4 linked regions of the Homo sapiens genome follow. The protein of the gene in region 4 purifies or fractionates together with the protein of the main gene of each other region. This does not show direct contact. Each region holds a gene or a part of one and is shown on either strand. Other genes may lie near its edges.

Evidence for each region. Proteins that work in one complex are often made in the same cells at the same time.
Region 1: the proteins of THRSP (region 4) and EIF4G3 purify together in Homo sapiens (affinity purification with mass spectrometry; one large-scale study listed by BioGRID and IntAct). This does not show direct contact.
Region 2: the proteins of THRSP (region 4) and GAPVD1 purify together in Homo sapiens (affinity purification with mass spectrometry; one large-scale study listed by BioGRID and IntAct). This does not show direct contact.
Region 3: the proteins of THRSP (region 4) and TGFBRAP1 purify together in Homo sapiens (affinity purification with mass spectrometry; one large-scale study listed by BioGRID and IntAct). This does not show direct contact.

The regions. Positions count from the first base shown.
Region 1 is NC_000001.11:20,939,398-20,942,897, forward strand, and holds part of EIF4G3 (eukaryotic translation initiation factor 4 gamma 3), read right to left. Parts: intron 2,934-3,500; coding exon 2,094-2,933; intron 1,999-2,093; coding exon of another isoform or gene 1,979-1,998; exon of another isoform or gene 1,847-1,978; intron 1-1,846. UniProt on the Homo sapiens protein: Component of the protein complex eIF4F, which is involved in the recognition of the mRNA cap, ATP-dependent unwinding of 5'-terminal secondary structure and recruitment of mRNA to the ribosome. Functional homolog of EIF4G1.
Region 2 is NC_000009.12:125,362,826-125,365,266, forward strand, and holds part of GAPVD1 (GTPase-activating protein and VPS9 domain-containing protein 1), read left to right. Parts: 3' UTR 1-2,441. UniProt on the Homo sapiens protein: Acts both as a GTPase-activating protein (GAP) and a guanine nucleotide exchange factor (GEF), and participates in various processes such as endocytosis, insulin receptor internalization or LC2A4/GLUT4 trafficking.
Region 3 is NC_000002.12:105,270,736-105,274,235, forward strand, and holds part of TGFBRAP1 (transforming growth factor-beta receptor-associated protein 1), read right to left. Parts: intron 2,956-3,500; coding exon 2,809-2,955; intron 2,280-2,808; coding exon 2,120-2,279; intron 1-2,119. UniProt on the Homo sapiens protein: Plays a role in the TGF-beta/activin signaling pathway. It associates with inactive heteromeric TGF-beta and activin receptor complexes, mainly through the type II receptor, and is released upon activation of signaling.
Region 4 is NC_000011.10:78,061,694-78,067,642, forward strand, and holds the start of THRSP (thyroid hormone-inducible hepatic protein), read left to right. Parts: upstream 1-2,167; 5' UTR 2,168-2,188; coding exon 2,189-2,629; 3' UTR 2,630-2,648; intron 2,649-5,949. UniProt on the Homo sapiens protein: Plays a role in the regulation of lipogenesis, especially in lactating mammary gland. Important for the biosynthesis of triglycerides with medium-length fatty acid chains.

The DNA.
Region 1 (3,500 bases), on a different chromosome or scaffold from region 4:
TCACAATACTAATATTGAGAGCATCTGCATTTCAAACAAATGTACCATGGTATGAACATTATTTAAACCAAAATTCTGTTTGCCCATCCATCCCTGGGCACTGTCTTGCAATATCAGGTCATCTAAGTGGCAAACTGATGTTTAAAAAAAGAATATATGTCAGAAATGAGTGAAGTATGATTTTGATGCATGGTCTTTTCACTTTACACTTATTTCAATTCTGAGGTATGGTTTGTATCTTCAACTTATATTTCCTATGATTGTTTTGTTTTTCTTTGCTTTTACATTTTAAAAACATTTTTGTTCATTAGTTTCTCTCATTTTTGTAACTATCGTATCACTACAAATGAAAATGAACATTGAAGTGTCAAACAAATTACTGTTCTCCAACAAACACGTGTTTCTTCGGAGGGCATTTACCTACAGCCACACCAACACCAAGTTGTTTAGTTTTTTTTTTTTTTTTTTTTTTTTTGAGATGGAGTCTCGATCTGTTGCCCAGGCTGGAGTGTGGCGGCACGATCTTGGCTCACTGCAACCTCTGCCTCCCAGGTTCAAGCAATTCTCCTGCCTCAGCCTCCCGAGTAGCTGGGACTACAGGCCCACACTGCCATGCCTGGCTATTTTTTTTGTATGTCAGTGGAGATGGGGTTTCACTGTGTTGCCAAGGCTGGTCTCGAACTCCTGAGCTCAGGCAATCCACCTACCTCGGCCTCCCAAAGTGCAGGGATTACAGGCATGAGCCACTGCACCCGGCCCCAAGGCTGTTTTTCTAAAGGGTAACTGACAAAACAAGGTCTAAGGTCATCTCTCCACCAAGGAACAAGTTTCCTAAAACAGTGATGGCACTATGAATACTGATGTCAATGGAAGCCAGATAGTTGAGGAAACAGGTAATTTACAAAGATTTATGAAAAATTTCTCACTGTTCCAATTGCCTTGCATTGTTTTCTTTCCTGTGCTGGCTCATGGTGTTCTACAAGATGTTCTGCAGTTCCAAAAGGCCAGACACCTCTTACAGACACTGATGAGGAAATTGTCTCAAGAACTGAGCTGGGTAGAAAAGCCACATCTCAAAAGTAGGGATCAGCTTTTGGGTTTGTCAAATTTCCTTATTATACACCTCAAAATAGACAAAAATACTGAGGATGATGGTGACCAAAACCTATTCACTGCATGTCAAGGATCAACTGCTGGAGGAGCACTCATTTATCAAAAAGCCCAATTTACATACGCATTACTTAATCTGACAGGCACAGAGAAAGGAAATTATATAGCATAGGGCAATGTTGCAGAAGATAGGCTGTGCTGAATTGTTCAAAGCCAAAACTTCAATATTCCTATGGGCTAACTTATCCTAGAATAGCTGATAAGCCTCAGATAACTTTTGATTAAACTTACAATAACCCAATGGTTAGTTCCTAAGGTCCCAGGTGATGCTACATTAAAAAGAAATAATTTGAACTGGGAAGAATATAATACTCCAAGGATATTAATGACCATGTAAAAATGTACACAAAAAATAAAACTGTTTCAAAAGGCAAAGTGAGAGAACGTTAAGCTTACCTGCAAGTGAATCAACAACAGCATTATATTTTCAAAAATAGTTATAAACCTTTGATGTTCTGATTGCTATCTTCCTACATCCAAGATTTAAAAACTGGTCATGCATAGAAGAGTTCCTTTAGGATTGACTGGGTTTTAAAATTCTAGGAAGACAGAATTAGGGACTATAGACCATCCTGGTTTTTTGTTTTCTAGCCCCAAAGCAGCAAAATTAAGCATTGAGAAACCAATTCATATGAATGAGGCAATAGCAACAACAACAACAACAAAACCCAACATGTTTCGTGACATATACCTTGGAGGCATTTTGTATATTTGGAAATTCTCATTTGCATTTTTAGACAATGGAGTAACTCTTTTGCAGGTTGTACTAAAACACAAACACACCACTGAAGAAACCAGACTAGGAATTTCAGCATTCATTCGATGTTTCTGGAAGTCAAGGAAAGTAGCCAATTAAAAAATAACTCAAACACTGCCTCTTCTTCATGTTCAGCAAGCACGAGATTAATGGCAGAATGGCTTACCTGGGACAGGGCTCCTTCTTGAATTTAAGTTTTGAGAATCCAAAATCTCTTCTGTTTGCCCATCTGCTTCTACCTCTATTTTGTTCTGAATCTCTTTTGCATCTTCACTAAGGCAAGTTCTTATGCTCTCGTCCTCCTCTAGGACTCTCTGGACTGTGATGGCAGCACTCGGAGAACTAACAGTAGTGGCAGCAGCAGGAACAATGACTGGAGTGTGAGGAGGAGAAGCTGGAGGAGTTGGAGGAGTTGGAGGAAAGGAAGGAACTGTGGAAGGGGTGATGGGAGCTGGGATACACTCCAGTTTCATTTCTTCTGGGGGATTTTCGAGAATCTCCAATTCAAGAGTCAATGGCAATACTTCCTGTTTTACTATTTCCACAATGCTCTCCGTGGCTGATAATTTTTCGCTAACTCCATTTATTTCATTAATTAGGTTAGTACTAGAAACCAGTGGAATATCATTAGGTGCTACACTACAGGGTTTCTTGCATATATCATCATCATTTTCATTTGTTGGTAAAGGGTCTGATGTTTCTGTGCAAGATGTGAGGCTGGGTATAGGAATTGTGTCTTCTCTTGGGGATGAGAGTTCACATCTGTCATCTATAGCAGTGGTGAATATTGGTTGGCTACTAAGAGCAGAAGAGGTGGGGGCTGCAATTGTACTTCGAGCAACAGAAGAAACAGTGGTAGGTGATGGAGGCAGAGGAAGCTCTGCTATGGATACTATTGCAGTAGTTTCAGATGTCTGGCCTTCTTGTTCTTTCTTCTCTCCACTGAGGACTAGCCTAAGGACTGGGGAAGGAGACTTTAACACTGGATCTGGTTTTGGCTTCTCCTCTGGGGAAAAAAAAATAAGTTTTAAGAATAATTCTTGGATCAGAGACTACATATTGCCTTGGGCCAATTCTTTCAATGTCTTACCCTAAATTACAGGTAACAGAACAGAGACCAATATATTAGACTTATTCTGGTATGCCAAAAACATTGTCTCTTTTCTTTTTTTACTTAAACCTACTATTTACTTGGTATCCAATACATAAAGTCTGTTTTGGAGTAAGAGAAGGAATCTATTCACCAAAAAATTATATATCAAGAATACAACTGAAAAGCTCACCAAAACTGAGGCTAAACCATTCTTGGTTTAAGAGTGAGGCTTTTCTTTAAGGTAGGAAAACCTTCATTTCTACCACTTCTCGTTCCCTAAAAAACTTTTTTTCCAAGGATATATTACAGTGGCAAAACAGTACAAGGGCAAACAATTAAAAATTAAATTATTATAAAGGGACTGATGTTATTTTTTATTCTATATATTTTTGTATTTGGGGAGATAATTTTTATTTTAAAAAGTATTACTTGTATAAAAACTCAAGATAAAGCATCACATTTTATTTAATGAAATTTACT
Region 2 (2,441 bases), on a different chromosome or scaffold from region 4:
GGCTGAAGATTGTTTTGTATGATACTGCACAGCATCAGGCATTTTAAAGCAGATCTTTACTAAACAGGTTAATGAGCTAACAAGCAGGTTCTCTCGTCTTTGGGCTCTTTCCTTTCTGAGTTGCATATTCTATTTTCTTGTCCCCAAGTAGAGACTAGTACTACAAAAAGGGACCACATTTTTCAAGTATTTCTAAGTATAAAAAACAAAACAAAAATCTCTTAGGAAATGTCTAGACCTCCATTCTTGGATTCCCTTTCTTTCCTTTTATTTTAAAAAAGAACAGTACCCCTCTTTTAAGATGCTGTCTTACATTAATGAGCATCTAATGGAAAGAAGGTATGAGTTGCACTGAGGATTAGAATAGTGGTGCGTTAGTGGCATTATCTATAAATACACTCACCTAAATTGAAAGCTAAGAAGGAAATGTAAATATAATATATATTTATATTTGATGTAATATGGACATCTGCAGATTCTAATAAACAAGGACTATTGCTGATAGTAGGCTGTGACATACTGTCTTGTGAAATGGTTTCCTTGACAAAATTTAAGCTGAGCTTAAAAGCAAAAAACAAAAAGTACACAGAAATATTTATTAAAATGTAATACAGTTTATTGAACTTTCTAGGTATGGAGTTTGATGGACAGGGCTGCCTTTAATGAGTGTGAAGGTCACTAAGTCACTTAGACATCTCACCGTGGAAGTTTGTGAGCCTGCATTAGGAGATAGACTGATTACCATACATGACATAAAAAGGAACAGTGGATAGCTCATACTTTATGGTGGTTCTTCTCCTCCGAAATAATATACTGCAGAAATCCCAGACAGAGCTCCTTACAAACCTTTAATTGTAATATATTTTTGATGATTATTCACATTGAATGCACAGACCAAGAATTCAGTGAATGTCATTTTTTAAAAAACTAATTTGTATTGTCTGCTCTAGTGATACAAGTTTTACTAGTGATAAACTATTTTAATCAACCATACTATTCTTATGGAAAAAAATATCTATTTTGGCAGGTTTCTGTGCCTTTATTTCCCTCTTCTGAAAAAAAGTCTGTGTTTTCATAGTTTGGTTTGCATTGTATATCAATAATTAATCAGGAATGGGTTTTGGTGCCTGAAAAATTGGCCATGGAGGCACACCAAAGCTTCAAGCACAAGTCTTGTACATGGGCCATCACTGTCTGGTTTCACTTCGTGTGTTTCCTAAACACATTTAGCTGCTTTTTTAACAAACTCAGCCCCATACTTGAGTCCCTTGTTGTTGGGAGCATTTCCAGGCATCTTTTAAGGGAACTGTGACAAACAGCCTCGGGCAGATGAACACGGAGGCTCTCTGTTGTCTGTCTCTGAGATCTTTGTGTCTGGGAATGCCTAAAGATTTTATTTTTTTTTCTTTGTTTTTATTTTATTTTATTTTATTTTTTTGAGACAGAGTCTCACCCTGTTGCCCAGGCTGGAGTGCAATGGTGCGATCTTGGCTCACTGCAACCTCCACCTCCCAGTTCAAGTGATTCCCCTGCCTCAGCCTCGCGAGTAGCTAGGACTACAGGCGCATGTCACCAAGCCCGGCTAATTTTTGTATTTTTAGTAGAAACGGGGTTTCACCATGTTGGCCAGGATGATCCTCAATCTCCTGACCTCGTGATCCACCCGCCTTGGCCTCCCAAAGTGCGGGATTACAAGCGTGAACCACCCTGCCCAGCCAGAAACTAGATTTTCTTTATGCCTCCACCCCTTCTTATTCATTTACTTTACAATACCAAAATAACAAATTGCATAGGAGTGTGGGATGTGGTTTCTGCCTTCTAGAGAGAGATCAGAATTAAACTAGTACTATGAAATGTCCTTTTGAATGTTAGGTCAAGAAATCCATGTACAGAGTCGTGCACTTCATTGGCTGTAACTGTCAAACTTGCCTTGTATTAGAAGTTAAATCCCATCGTAAATACATCACGAGGCCAGCTGTGTGATTTCTGAGACCTAGATGAGAGTCCATTTACTTCAGCCTTTGATTCAGTAAATGTTAAGCAGCAGAAGACTTCGAATGGTTGAAATTCATTGTTACAGGATTTAACTCATAAACCAATGAGAGATTTTTTTTTTCTCTGCAATGGTTGCTAAGTCTATTCCATGTTAACACTGTGGAAATAAATATGAAGATGTGGACATTGCATCGGGGCTCTTTTCTGTGGAAGAGAAGGTGGTGGGATTGGGGTGAAGGGCTACACTGGAGGCAGGAGATAGGGCTGTGCTGTGTTGGAGCCGGGGCTGAGGGTAGACCCCCCAGAGATTTGACATCTGTGACACCTGTGAAATGGGTTCGGGTGCTCATGACTCCATAGCTGGCGGAGGAGCACAGCACAGCTGTTGCAGGGGCAGCTAAGGTTTCCTCTGAAAATCTGTCAGGAGCAAGGACTACTTTGGCATT
Region 3 (3,500 bases), on a different chromosome or scaffold from region 4:
CCTTCATCCTCACAGTGGAAGGCCAACAAATAATTACTAAGTGGCTGCCATAGTTAAGACCCTGGGTGAGGTACAAAGACAGTTAAGAAAAGATCACTGTGGTGATTTACACTTCCACATCTATCATCTCATTTATATTTGACTCCCACAGCCACCCCGAGTGGATAGGTTGGGCTGGAATCGTTTTTACAACTTCCCTAGACTGACATTTCCCCAAGTCATCTAACTAAGAAGGGATACAAAATCAGTGTTTGGATTTCCAGTGCTCCTCCCACAGTGCTGCGGGGGATACCCCCATTGCCTGAAAGCTCCCCTGTGCTACCTGCAAGCCCAGGCTTATACCTAATGACTGCTCATATAGGGCCTCTTCCGGGAGGCTGCCTCTGACCCCTCCACCCCAAGGCACAGCTCGTGGGTTCCTCGGCCCTTCTAGAACTGTACCTGCCCTTAACTGCATTCCAATTAAACTCTGAGTCTCTGAGGACCAGGACCAAGTCTCATCCATCTTTGTATCCTCAATGCACAGTGACACACTCTACATACTCAGAAAAGCTGGCGGAATGCAAACATTGAACCACACACTTGTGGCTGGCCTGAGAGTTTTATAAGGAGATTTGTAAAGCAAAAAGAATAAGTCAGGAGTGAGTAAAAATTCAATAGCTGGGACACCCTGGCACTGATCAGTCAGGGACGGTGGCTGTGAGTGAACAGAGATTGCACAGCGGATCGCCACAGAAAGTCCTAATGTAGGTGCAGGTACAAGCCAGAACTAGTGTTTGCTGGTTTCATGAAATACCAACCCACACCTGTGTTCTGGCTCTACTGCTCGTGGGCTGTGTGACCTGTGGCAAGCGGGGTAACCTCTCTGGGCTTCAGTGCACTCTTCTGTAAAAATGGAGGAAAAACAGGCCTCACTTCACAGGGTTGTTGTGGAAACTGTGTCATAAGGCAGCCTCAGCGTTTCAACCTATGCTGGGCATATCTAGTCAATCCTCATTATTTGTGGATTCTGTATTTACAAAGTCATCTACTCGCTGAAATTTATTTGTAACCTCCCAATCAACACTCGCAGCAGCTTCAAGGTCATTTACGACAAGCACAGAGCCTGATGCAGAGCTGAGGCCAAAGAAGGAGCGCCCTCCTTCCTTGCTTCAGCTGTCGTACTAGCTACACGTTTCCTTTTCACGGGCTATTTATTGCCATGCTTTTTTGCATTTTGGTGCTTCTTGTTGGTGATTTCAGTGTAGTGCTGAAGTGCTGCCTAGCGCTCCTAAGCTCTGGAAGGTTGTGATGTGCTTTATGGAGACAACACGTGTGTTAGATATGCTTTGTTATTGGTCAAAAAATGGTATTAAAGGCCATTAAAGAAAAACACATCACTAACCCCAGTGAGTATAAATGCAGAAATTCTTAATGTGGCAAGAAACTAGTTAATTCTACCAGTTGCAAGCACCATGCTGCGCTGTGGAACTTTACACAATACAGAAACTGTGGCCTCTGTACCCCTGAGGAACAGAAACCCAAATGCCCTCCAAGACACCTGCATAACCTTCTTGCTTAGAGCTCGAGGGACCTGAGCCTTGAGCAGCTCGGGAATGGGTCGCTGGGGGCAGTGCCTACTGCAAAGCCTTGATCAGAGACTGAAGCCGTCAGAGGGAACTATGACTCAGTGCTTTGACATTGAATAAAGACACTGTGTGTCAAGAGACACACAGACGTCTAAAGTCTACCAGGGCAGCACCAACATCATCAATCAAAGGGCACCGTCCATCTAGAGGCACGGTCCATCTCTAGAGGCACGAGAAGCCTTATTTCTCCCTGCAAGGAGGCTGACTCTGTCAAAAGAGGCTCAAGGGCTGAGTGTGGTGGCTCACGCCTATAATCCCAGCACCTTAGGAGGCAGAAGCAGGAAGATCACTTGAGGCCATGAGTTTGAGACCAGCCTGGGTGACAAAGCGACACCCTGTCTTCATTTAAAAAAATCTTTTTAAAAAAAGAGGCTCAAAGAATCACCCTGTGCAATCAACCAGCAGCTGTGCCAAAGCCCTTCTCTCTGCTTCCTCCCACCCGCTTGATATGAGTTTTTTCCAAAGGGAGACAATACTGAGATCATCCTCACCGAGAAGAAAGTGGACTCGGTATAAATCAGATTTCTGGAGCAGCCGCCGCAGCTTGGCCTGCGTCTCGGTGGCCTCTGCACCCTTGCCACTGGCGGAGGCCCTCTGCAGCAGCACCTCTTCCAGGTACAGCACAGCTAAGTGGGTGTGATACTCTTCTTTCTGCAGGAAACAGGGGGAGCCAAGCAGACAGACAGTGTTTTCAAGTGGGAAAGTCAAAGCTCTCCCCTGTCAGCCAGGGCTTGGAGACCGCGGCTGCACTGACATGAGCTGGGCAGATGCTCACTTGCTGGATCGAAACCCTCTCAGAAACCATGATACTGAGATGAGTTTACCATCTATGGGGAATAGAACAAAATGTCACCTCTTATTTCAAGAAGTAAGGGCCACAGAATTTAGATAACCTACAAAAAGGTATAGCTCCCTTTATTTCCTTTAAGGATAATAACAAAGAAGGAAAAGAGAGGAAAAATAAAAGCTGAGTGGGTGTGAGACGGACGGAGAAAAAAATAAAGCTACCTATTGCTCCAGGTCTCTTTCCGCAAGCCTCAAGGCCGCCATCAGACCATCAACAAGTACGGATGGATCACCCAGGGAACAGACATTACACAGAATCACATGCCAAAAAGTGTTCTAGTTCAATTCCGTCTCTCCAGCCCACACTCTTTAGTCTAACTTCTGCAGTGCTCACCTGCAGTCTCTTGTCTATCACAAGATGTTCCAGATACTTCACAAGGGCTTTAGGGTATTTTTTAAGGCAATTGATAATGTCGTCTGGATTAAAACTGTTCTTCTGCTGTTCATCCAAAGGTCTCTTGGTGAAAACCTGAACTCCGACCTGAAAGAGGAGCGACAATACAGTGACTGTGCTTCCCAAACCCACCTTTCCTTTAACTTTATTTTGGTCATTGCACATTCAAGCTTTGGATAAAATCATCACTTAAAATATGATTAAATTATTATGTATGCACAGCTTTTTGTATGTCAATCATATCTCAATACAGTGGCTTAAAAAATATAATTATGGAGAAAAACAGCCCAGCATGAAGCACTGTCAAAGGCCAGAGGGCAAAAAATCAAGATAGAAAAGCCAGCCTATACCCTGAAGTCCTCCTCACACACCCCATGCAAATTGGAAACTGAAGAACAAAGCATTTACTGGTGACAGATTTTGACAACCTATAATAATAACATTAAGATCATCCAAGAACAGGGATAGCCAGTTGCAGAACAGTATGTGAAAAGATATCAAAAGTGCTGAAATTTCTGTACAGTAAACTCACTTCTCTGAACATGGATTATCTACTCTGGGTTATTTATGATAGATGGTTAATCTGAGATCTGAGCTTCCAGTCCCTGAGTAAGTTTCCGGGCTGCCTTCCT
Region 4 (5,949 bases):
CATCACAGTTCACTGCAGCCTTGACCTCCCGGGCTCAAGCAATCCTCCCACCTCAGCCACTTGAGTAGCTGAGACCTCAGATATGTGCCATCACACCCAGCTGATTTTTTAAAATTAATTTTTTGTAGAGATAGGGTCTCATATGTTGCCCATGCTGGTCTCAAACTACTGGGTTCAAATGATCCTCCTGCCTCAGCCTTCCAAAGTACTGGGATTACAGGCATGAGCCACCATGCCGGGCTGGGAGGCGGAATTTTGTTCAGTCTAAAGATAAGCTTTTTCATAGCTCTGGCTGTAGTGGGAGGGAGCAGAGGAGTGAATGATTGTCAGTTGGGAGGGTGCAGAGTGGGCTCCTGCCCTAGGGTGGAGGTGAGGGTGGCTTAGGTGAGACAACACAGAGGCCCTGTTCAGCCCCACGTCCCCTCCCTGTGCTCCCTCCTCCTCTCTCCTCTCCTGCAGGCGTGGGAGGTATCATCATTCAGCAGATTTCACCAGAGGCAGTGGAGGAGGCAGGTACCTGAGCCAGAATTCAGAATGTCTTATTCTCCACTTGACTCTGCCACTAACTTGTTGTGCAACTTTGGGCCTTTCCCCAGGCCTTCATTTTCTTTTCTTTTCTTTTTCTTTTTTTTTTTTTGAGGCGGAGTCTCGCTATGTTGCCCAGGCTGGAGTGCAGTGGTGCAGCATCATCTCGGCTCACTGCAAGCTCCACCTTCTGAGTTCACGCCATTCTACTGCCTCAGCCTCCCGAGTAGCCGGGACTGCAGGCGCCCACCACCACGCCCGGCTTATTTTTTGTATTTTTAGTAGAGACAGGGTTTCACCACGTTAGCCAAGATGGTCTCGATCTCCTGACCTCGTGATCCACCCGCCTGGGCTTCCCAAAGTGCTGGGATTACAGGCGTGAGCCACTGCGCCCGGCCATTTTCTTAAATATCTAATAAAAAATATATAGCAAATGCAGTTTGTAAACTATGACAATATGACCACGCAAAAGATTATTATCTTCCAAGACTGCTGGTCCAAGGAAAGGTCAGTAATAAAGTGGAAGCATTGTAGCTTATGGAATGACTGGTTAGATTTGGGAGAAGCCTTAGCAATAATCTAGAATCTGCATAGATAATACATCTGAGGATTGGGCTTTGTGGTTTACAAAGCATTTTTTTTCCTCTTTTGATCCCAGCCGCTTGTCTGGACTGATACAAAGCATTTTTATTAGTTTGTCTTATTCAATCCTCACACCACCTCAAATTTACAGAGGATATGGATCTGGTTAACTTGTATGACTATGTAACCTCATGTCAGTCCACAGCACTGCCTGGAGGTGGGTAGAGGTGGTCCTGGGCTGGAATCCCAGCCCCAGTGGGACCTTGAGCAAGTTACTTTAGCTGTCTGCACCTAAATTTCCTCACTGGCAAAACAGGAATACTGGTGGTTCACACCTGCAATTCCAGCACTTTGGGAGGCTGAGGTGGGAGGATTGCTTGAGTCCAGAAGTTCAAAACCAGACTGGGCAACATAGCAAGACCATCTCTACAAAAATTAAATAAATAAAACATTTACAAGGGTTGTGGTGAAGATTAAATGAGATCACTCACGAAAAAGCTCAGCAGACCCTGATGTGCAGTAGGTGCTCAATAAATGTTAGCCAGCAAAAAACAAACAAAAAAAAACTCAGCTAGGAAATTGCAGTACTGGGCTTCTGACTCCAACCTCAGTGTTCCTTGCCCCACATCAAGCTGTTTCACTTCAAATCCTCTCCATTTCACAATGGAGTCACCCCAGGTTGAAGGAGTGAACTGTGCTTTGGAGGGCTGCCCTAAGCAGGCAGCAAAGAGACAGCTTGGTCTCCAGTGACCTGAAAGAATTATTTATTGCCCTGAAGTCCAGTATACCAGTTGCCAAAGGGAAAAGCTTCCTTCCAACTGGCTCAGCAAGCTGACAGAGGAAGAGTCGGGTTCTTGCTGGGGCAGTCATGCAGAGCTGGGATGACAAGTAGAAGGCTGGCAGATCTGTCTCTGGGCAGATGGATCACCTGATACAGATGCTGGGGCCTGAGCCCTGGGATTGGCCCAAAACAGGGCTGTGTTGACCCAACAGCTGGGCATTGGCATCCTGTCAATCTGCCGAGAGCCTAGAAATAGTGCGGGGGCAGTCTGCTGGTCTCATTGTGTCAGAGGAAGCAACCATGCAGGTGCTAACCAAGCGTTACCCCAAGAACTGCCTGCTGACCGTCATGGACCGGTATGCAGCCGAGGTGCACAACATGGAGCAGGTGGTGATGATCCCCAGCCTTCTGCGGGACGTGCAGCTGAGTGGGCCTGGGGGCCAGGCCCAGGCTGAGGCCCCTGATCTCTACACCTACTTCACCATGCTCAAGGCCATCTGTGTGGATGTGGACCATGGGCTGCTGCCGCGGGAGGAGTGGCAGGCCAAGGTGGCAGGCAGCGAAGAGAATGGAACCGCAGAGACAGAGGAAGTCGAGGACGAGAGTGCCTCAGGAGAGCTGGACCTGGAAGCCCAGTTCCACCTGCACTTCTCCAGCCTCCATCACATCCTCATGCACCTCACCGAGAAAGCCCAGGAGGTGACAAGGAAATACCAGGAAATGACGGGACAAGTTTGGTAGACCTTGGACACTAGGGAAGGTAATGGTGGCCATGCTGGTGGGTGTGAGTCTACAAAGGGACATTCCAGGAGAGGAGAGGGGGCAGTGGTGCAACCCACTGGGAGAGGAACAGCCTGACTTTCAGACAGAGCCACTCTTGGGTCAGGGTATTGGGACCACAACCTAGGAGGGCCTAAGACTAGGCCTGTGTTACTATCCTTCTGACCTCAAATTGGCAATTGCAATGAAGTGATATGGAAACAGAGGGAAAAGTGGCCTGTGAGGGCATATCTCATATGCACATATATGTGTTTGTGCATGTGTGCATTTATTAGTATGTGAATGCTTGTAAATGTGTGAATTGAATGAGTGTGTTCTCATCAGTGACTTTGTTAAGAATTTAATTGAAGAGGGGCCAGGCGCGGTGGCTCACACCAAAGCACTTTGGGAGGCCGAGGCGGGCGGATCATGAGGCCAGGAGATTGAGACCATCCTGGCTAACATGGTGAAACCCAATCTCTACTAAAAATACAAAAAATTAGCTGGGCGTGGTGGTGGGTGCCTGTAGTCCCAGCTACTCGGGAGGCTGAGGCAGGAGAATGGCATGAACCTGGGAGGCAGAGGTTGCAGTGAGCTGAGATTGTGCCACTGCACTCCAGCCTAGGTGACAGAGGGAGACTCCATCTCAAAAAAAAAAAAAAAACTTACCTAAGGCATGCACATTGATTTAAGTGAACATTGTGAATTCCATTTGTGTGACAGTGTTTCCCAACATTTTTTCAAGTCACAGAACATGGAAAATTATTATATGGCACATGGGGATACATAGGTGAGGCTGCTTGCAGTACTGCTACAACAGGCTGGGGGTACTCTGACCATCCCAGGTTGGAACCCACCAAACGGGAAGCCGAGGGACCAGTCATGGCACTCTAATCCATTCCAGGCAAACTGGAGTATGCAGACATGCCTGTTGGGAAGCCCTGTTGTATGTACATATGAATATGTGTTCCAGTCTAAGCCTACATGTCTATGCACAGAGGGGCTGGGGTGGTGAGTGTGGATGAGCAGCAAGCTAGACAAGCAGGTGGTGGCAGAGGGTAGGAGGTGGGAAGGGGCCCTAGCATGGTCACCACTAGTTCACTCATGGATAAAGACTAGTATTAATAGAAATTGGACCACAGCACCTGCCAGTTTTGATTCTGTGCCACCTGCCAGCCCTGCTCCCACAAACTGGTCTCATTAGTTGTAAACAACATCCACGTCCATTGCAATCTCAAAACCACCTGATGCAGCTATGTAGGAAAAGATTCTCATCCCCAGTTTACTAGTATGGAAATTGAAGCCAGAGAGGTGAAGTGACTCACCCAAAGTCACACAGTAAGGAGACAAAAGTAAGACTGGCCTCAACTTTGAGCTGAGTGTTCTTTCCATCGTACCCACTGTCTGCCATTTTGTGTTATCTTCATAATCTGTGTGAAGGCTGCTCTGTAATTATGCGGAATAAACATGGGACCCCCAAACACAGAGCCTATGGAGAGCTCTGCTCCAGGCATTTTCTCAGCCATTTTTCCTTCTCCCGCTTCAAACCCAAACTGTCAACCTCAACCCTTCTTCCCTCTCCCGTTGAGGCTCCCTGAGTTGCCTCACAGAGGTTCTTCTTGAATTAGATGGGGCTGTGTCAACAGCTCTGGGTTCACGTTCTGATTCTATCACTAATGAGCTGTGGGGCCTTGGGCAAGCTAATTCATTTCTCTGGGTTTCAGCTTCTTCACTGAATAATAACAGTGGTTGTAAAACTAACAACTGGCATTTGAATAGTTTTAAGATCACTTTGCATATCCATTATCTAATGGAATTATCATCCCCCCCCACCTTTTTAAATTTTGAGACGGAGTCTCACCCTGTCCCCCAGGTTGGAGTGCAATGTGCAATCTCAGCTCACTGCCACCTCCACCTCCCAGGTTCAAGAGATTTTCCTCAGCTTCCAAAGTAGCTGGGATTACAGGCGTGTGCCACCACACCCAGCTAATTTTTTTAAAATCTTTAGTAGAGACCGGGTTTCACCATGTTGGCCAGGCTGGTCTTGAACTCCTGACCTCGTGATCCACCTGCCTCGGCCTCCCGAAGTGCTGGGATTACAGGCATGAGCCACCGCGCCCAGCCTATCATTCCCTTTTGCAGATGAGAAAACTGGAGGCCTGAGAAGTAAAATGAGTCCAAGTTTACTCAGTAAATAACAGCCAAGATGTGAACCCTGGCCTAATTAGTCTAATTCTTTTCCTCTACAGTGGTATTCCTTAGAGCCTTAGACTTTTGCAGAGTGGGCTCAAAGTGGGAACTGGGCATGGCAGAGTGGGTAGAAACCACACTCTGACTCACTCAGTTGCTTCAAAGGCCAGAGCAGCAACTCTACGCCATAACGTTTCAACACACCCTAACCTGATTTTCATTCAGAGGCAATATGGTATAGCAACAGTTAAAAATCTGGGCTCTTGTTCTGGCTCTTCCATTGACTTCTGTATTATCCTAGACAACTTTTTTTTTGAGATGGAGTCTCACCCTATTGCCAGGCTGGAGTGCAGTGGCGCGATCTCAGCTCACTGCAACCTCCACCTCCCGATTCAAGCAATTCTCCTGCCTCAGCCACCCGAGTAGTTGGGACTACAGGTGCACGCCACTACACCCAGCTAATTTTTTGTATTTTTAGTAGAGATGGGGTTTCACCATGTTGGCCAAGATGGTCTCAATCTCCTGACCTTGTGATCCTCCCCGCTCGGCTTCCCAAAGTGCTGGGATTACAGGCGTGAGCCACCGCACCCAACCTTTTTTTTTTTTTTGAGATGGAGTCTTGCTCTTGTCACCCAGGCTGGAGTGCAGTGGCGCCACCTTGGCTCACTACAACCTCTGCCTCCCAGATTCAAGCAAGTCTCCTGCCTCAGCCTCCCGAGTAGCTGGGATTACAGGCTCACGCCACCATGCCTGGCTAATTTTTGTACTTTTAGTAGAGACAGGGTTTCACCATGTTGGCCAGGCTGATCTCGAACTCCTGACCTCAAATGATCCACCCACCTTGGCCTCCCAAAGTGCTGGGATTACAGGCGTGAGCCACCACGCCCGGCCCTAGACAACTTATCTTACCTTTCTGTATCTGTTTCCCTGTTAGTAAAATATAGCAGAGAAATCAAATGAGTTATTCCAGCTCTGACAACCTAGGATTCTCCTTACAGTGCTGAGGCACTGCCAGTTTTCCAACAGCAACATCAGCATTGTTCTTCCTGCTTCAATGGGCATGTGACAGTATCTTGGTTGTTTGAATTGATACTGACTTGGCCTTTTAAAAA